Linked DNA regions of Homo sapiens: region 1 is linked to region 2. The links come from fine-mapping of genetic effects on gene expression. A gene starts in region 2. The other region holds a variant in brackets. All regions are shown on one strand. Distances are between the middles of the regions. Region 1 has its middle 34 kb from the start of CARMAL. Region 2 holds the start of HAPLN3 (hyaluronan and proteoglycan link protein 3).

Region 1 (2,905 bases), 110 kb after region 2:
GAATCTTCAGATTGAAAGAGTTCAAGTGTCAAGCAAGACAAAGAAAAGCCAAAAACAAAACTAGACACAGCCTGGTAATACTGCAGCACTCTAAGGATAATGAAAAGCTTTCTACATGTTTCTGGAGTGAGGAAAACAGGTCACCTGCAACTAGCATCAAATTTGTCATCGGCAATATTGGGTTCTAGAAGACGTCTAAGATATATATTGAAAGAGCGCCTTCCAAGTTCTCAGGGAGTTTTGATGCTATAGATGTACACCCGCGTGCATTTTCTGGGGAAAAAAAAGGTTCAAAGACATACTCCAGCAAAATAAAAAACGAATTCACAAACAGGAAATAGTGAAATTAACTGAGGAGCACAATGTGGAAAAAAAAAAATCCCAGAATGACAGTTGTCCACAGACCAGCAAAGTTAGTGGTTCAGTTAGAATAGCAAATTTTTAATTACATTAAAAAATGATTTCAAGAAGAAAGTGGATTCCAATCAACAAATAATGTTTATGAAAGAGGATGATCTTTGTCTCTCCATCAGTAAAAAAGCCAGAGAAGCAATAAACAAAACTCCAGGAAAAACAAAAGGTTATGTAAGTTGTGGCCCATATGTGAAGCAAGCCTTTTCTCTTTCCCTTCTTTTCTCCTCTTTTCTTTTTTATTTATATATATATATATATATTTTTTTTTTTTTTTTTTTTGAGACAGAGTCTTGCTCTGTCACCCAGGCTGGAGTGCAATGGCACGATCTCAGCTCGCTGCAAACTCCGCCTCCCGGGTTCACGCCATTCTCCTGCCTCAGCCTCCCGAGTAGCTGGGACTATAGGCACCCGCCACCACACCTGGCTAATTTTTTGTGTTTTTAGTAGAAGCGGGGTTTCACTGTGTTAGCCAGGATGGTCTCGATCTCCTGACCTCGTGATCCATCTTCTTTTCTTTTCGAGACAGGTTTTCTCTGTGTTCCCTAGGCTGGAGTGCAGTGGTGCAATCTCGGCTCACTCCAGCCTTCACCTCGAGGGCTCAAGCCATCCTCCCTCCTTAGCCTCCCAAGTAGCTGATGGCATGTGCCACCATGCCCCGCTAATATTTGTATTTTTTGTAGAGACAAGGTTTTGCCATGTTGCCCAAGCTGGTCTCAAACTCCTGGGCTCAAGCGATCTGCCCGCCTCAGCCTCCCAAAGTGTTAGGATTACAAGTGTCAGCCACTGTACCCAGTCTATTTTTCTTAATTGAGGTATAATGTACACATGGAAAAATACTCAGATTTTAAGAGTAGCATCCAACCATTTTTATCAAATAATGTAAGTAAAATATAGCATTAACATTCATTTCATCTGTTTCTTTTTTGTTTTGTAATGGGGCTACTAGAAAATTTTAAAATACATCTGTGGTTCATGTTGTATTTATTTTGAGATAGAAATACCCTCATTTAACATATACCCCTATCAAGACAAAGAATATTTCATCACCCCAGAATTTTCCTCATGTCCTTTCCCAGTCAATCCTCCTCACCCCAAAGCAATTGCTGATCTGAAAGAGGCTAATATTGAGAAACAGATGAAGTATGATAACTGGGTGGCCATTCCACCTGGATTCTTAGAATGTCTCCTTCAAGCAGCACAAGTGCAGTGCAAATAATTACATTTAATTCCTTATGGATCTTTTTTTTGAGACAGAGTCTTGCTCTGTCACCCAGGCTGGAG[T/G]GCAGTGGCACGATCTGACTCACTGCAAACTCTGCTTCCTGGGTTCAAGCGATTCTCCCGCCTCATCCTGCCAAGTATCTGGGATTACAGGTGCACGCCACCACGCCCAGCTAATTTTTGTATTTTTAGTAGAGGCGGGGTTTCACTATGTTGGCCAGGCTGGTCTCGAACTCCTGACCTCAAGTGATCTGCCCTCCTCAGCCTCCCAAAGTGCTGGGATTACAGGCATGAGCAACCGCACCCGGCCACTCATCACAATTTTTTGTCCTAACATTATAAACAATATTTATGGGTGTATTGGTTTCCTAGGACTGTTGTAACAAATTACCACAAACATAGTGGCTTAAACTAACAACATACAATTTATTCTCTCACAGTTCTGGAGGCCAGAAGTCTGAAATCAATGTCTTGACAGGCTGCTCTTCCTCTGAAGTCCTGGGGAAGAATCCTTTCTTGCCTCTTTCAGCTTTTGGTGGCTCCAGACATTTTTTGGCTTGTGGCCACATCACTGTAATCTCTACCTCTGTGGTCACACTGCTTTTTCCCCTTCTCTGTATCTTCTCTGTGTGTCTCTTATAAGGACAGTTGTCACTGTCTGTATTCAAGCTTCACTTGGCTAATCTAGGATAATCTCCTCATCTTGAGATTTTAAATCAATTATATCTGCAAAGATATAATTATATCTGCAAAGACCTTTTTCCAACTAAGGTCATATTCACAGGTTCCAGAGATTAGGTCATGGACATGTCCTTTGGGGGGCCACCATTCAGCCCACTACAGTTGGTTTTCTTTTTTTTTTTTTTTTGTCTGAGACAGAGTCTCGTTCTGTCACCCAGGCTAGAGTGCAGTGACGCCATCTTGGCTCACTGCAACCTCTGCCTACCGGGTTAAAGAAATTCTCCTGCCTTAGCCTCCTGAGTAGCTGGGATTACAGGCGTGCGCCATGCCCAGCTCATTTTTGTGTTCTTAGTAGAGACGGGGTTTCACCATTTTGGTCAGGCCGCTCTGGAACTCCTGACTTCAGATGATCTGCCTGTCTTGGCCTCCCAAAGTGTTGAGATTACAGGCATGAGCCACCACACACAGCCTACAATTGGTTTTCAATTCCTAAAGCCCACATCTCAGTGGAAACGTGAACCACGTAGGTTATTTTATTTTATTTTATTTTATTTTATTATTTATTTTAGATAGAGTCTTGCTCTGTCACCCA
Region 2 (2,905 bases):
CATCTCAAAAAAAAAAAAAAAGTTGGGGTGGGGGGGGCGGTCACGACAATACCAAACAGAAAACACTCTCGTGAAGATTAAGGGAGAGAATAGCTGCAGAGCACTGAAAATACTGCTTGATGCTTGATAAGGAGCAAGCACTGGGAAAATATGACCTGTTACTACTCTGGTGAGCAGTTCACACAGTGAAGTCTTACACCATCTCAGTGGCTCTTTCTCCTCTCTCACTGCCTACGAGACAAAGTGGTCACCACTGCCTCCTCTTCACAGTTGAGGAAACTGAGGCCAAGAGAGTGGAGGTCAGTGAACTACCCAAGGCGTTATCTTTGTCAAATATCTCGAACTTAGAGAAAGTTCAGGTTTCCTGATGACCAGCCCTTTGCTTTTCCCAGGCGCCCCAGCCTAGGGACCCCTCCACCCAAGAACAATAAGCCTGGGCTTGGAGGGAGGGTAGGTGCCACCTCCCTGCCAGGTGCATGTCCGCACTGGGCCTTCCGTGAGTACAAGTCCCCCAGGTACCAGCAGGAGGCAGCATCGCCCGCGAGGTCTGCACGAGCGCTGCTCCCAGCGAGAAATTTGACATCCCTGTCCCTGTTTGCACAAGGCTTGATCTCCGCCTTTGAAACCTGCAGCCCCCAGGAGAATGAAAACCGGAGGTGTTTCCCAATCCGCTGGCCCGGGCGGCGTCGAGGGAGAGAAGCCAGGGCCCCTCTCAATCGCTGCCCCCTACTCCAGGGAGCACAGGCACTCCCGCGGGTCAGCGCTGGACACCAAGGTCCCAACAGGTTTACAGGCTGCCTGTGGCCTGTGGCTGCCAACGAGCTGGTGGCAGGACTGGGTCCAAGTGCCGTGCTGTTTCCATACTGGCTGCGCACAAGCCTACGTTTCTCCCTGAGGGTCGCCATCTCCCACCCAGGGCTCTGCCCTCCACCCTCCCTACCCTTCTGGCCTCGCTGTCCCTGGGGCAAGAACCCCGGTGAGCGAGGTCTGGAACCCATAGGCATCAGTTGCCTTTGCCCCAGGCGCCCAGAGCCGGCCAGCTGCGGTCCAGAGGCGCAGGTCCGCCAGCCGCCTCGCAGGTTGCCCTCAGCCCCTCCCAGGACTCCCGGGGCCCCCGGAGCATCCAACAGATACCCAGGGGCAGGGCCTGGGGCGCCGCGGACGGCACTGGAGGCAGCCGACCCTGGACAGACGACAGGGGAGAGAGCCAAGCGGACCCTGGCAGGAAGGGGGCTGGAGGCGGACGGTGGTCTCGGAGGCCACGGGGTCCGCTCGGGCTCTGCTCCCTCACGGTGGGCACGAGGGTCCGGCGCCCGCATCCCCGCGCCGCTCCCTCCCCACTTGTGCCCCGGGCGCCCCTCGCCCGCGATCACAGCCCATCTCAGCCCGGGCCTCCGCAGTGCCCGGCCCACGCCTCCTGCCCCTTCCCCGGACCCTGCCCGGGAGGTGTGGGGACCCGCAGGGCACCCAAAGCGGTAAGGGAGGAACCCGGCCCGCACACAGCCCCAGAAGCCCAGCGACCCCTAAGCCACGTACCGTCCCCAGGCAGCTCCTCGACGGCTAGAGCTCTCGGGGGCCGCGAGCTGTCCCGGTCCAAGGCAGCAGTCTGATTTCGGGGAAATTAAAAGGGCAGAAAGGAAGCGGCAGCAGAAAAACCCCCGCGCTCCCGCCAGACCAGCCCCTTAAAGGAACACGCGCACCTTTCCCTCCCAAGGGCTGGGCTCGAAGGGAGGAGCTGCTGCAGGCTTGAGCGGTCTCCAGACTCGCTGGGAACCACCGCAAAGAGGGTGTGCAAGAGTTGAGGCCCTCACGTCTTGGGAAAGGAGAGTAGGGGTGGAATAGGAGAGTTTGGGGAGGGGGGATCCCCTTAGAAAGCCTGGTATACCAAAAACAGTGGGAGTAAGCAGGGGAAGCCCCTGTCCAGCATTCTGCTAGGGGCTAAGGCTGCTCCCCACCTTTGATTGTGGAAGGGGTGAGACTTCTGTATTACTTTCTTTTCCAAATAGAAAGCAAGGGGGTGAGGCCAGGTGCAGTGAGTGGCTCATGCTTGTAACCCCAGCACTTTGGGAGGTGGAGGCCGGTGGATCACCTGAGGTCAGGAGTTCAAGACCAGCCTGGGCAACATGGTGAAACCCTGTCCCTACTAAAAATACAAAATTAGCTGGGCGTGGTGGAGCATGCCTGTAATCCCAGCTACTTGGGAGGCTGAGGCAGGAGAATTGCTTGAACCCAGGAGGCGGAGGTTGCAGTGAGCTGAGATCATGCCATTGTGCTCCAGCCTGGGCAACAAGAGCAAAACTCCGTCTCAAAAAAAAAAAAAAAAAAAAAGCAAGGGGTTGCTGATGTCCTCATGCCCCTGAGTTTGGCCATCATGAAACACTGGCCAGATTCCCAACTCACTGTCAGGCACATAGCAGGTGCTATCCCCAGCACATGGGGCTTGAATGAGTGGCCCTGGCTGGGAGGGGAGACACAGGGTGGGATACCTCTGCAGCCTGCAGGGGCAATCAGGCTTCTGAGTGGTCCTCCAACAGGGGTGGGCCTCCCTTCGGAATCCTGCTAATCAGCACAGCCATCCAGGCAGCCGCTCAGGATGCCTCTGTTTGGACAGGGTGTTTTCTTTCCTGTCCAGACCAATGGGGGCCCTGGCCTGGACAGCCCGATGTTTCCTCAGCAGAAAAGACTAAGGAGGTCCTTCAGCTTTGGCTGGGGGAAGGGTCGAAGGGTCACAGGGTCACAGAGCTCAGAGCCTCTTCCTAAACACAGCTCAAGTTGGCCCATGAGTGTGTGTGTGTGTGTGCATGTGTGTGTGTTACACACAGCCAGGGGCACATTGGAGCACAAAGAACTGTGATCAACAGGTAAACTACACCTAAAAGGAACGCCAGGCTTGATGGGCAAAGGG

Evidence for each region. PIP is the estimated chance that this variant, and not a neighbour inherited with it, causes the effect.
Region 1: its variant is the best candidate, but not a certain one, in a credible set for the expression of HAPLN3 in esophagus mucosa (GTEx, PIP 0.57).

Annotation. Positions count from the first base shown.
Region 1 is chr15:89,005,976-89,008,880 of GRCh38, forward strand. No RefSeq gene overlaps it. Among named protein-coding and RNA genes, the nearest start is that of CARMAL, 34 kb to the right of the region's middle. The variant T/G (reference allele first, on the strand shown) is at 1,696.
Region 2 is chr15:88,893,923-88,896,827 of GRCh38, forward strand. It overlaps HAPLN3 (hyaluronan and proteoglycan link protein 3), which reads right to left and starts at 1,622. Exons shown (of 5, transcript NM_178232.4): 1 at 1,537-1,622. RefSeq lists an enhancer at 848-1,459.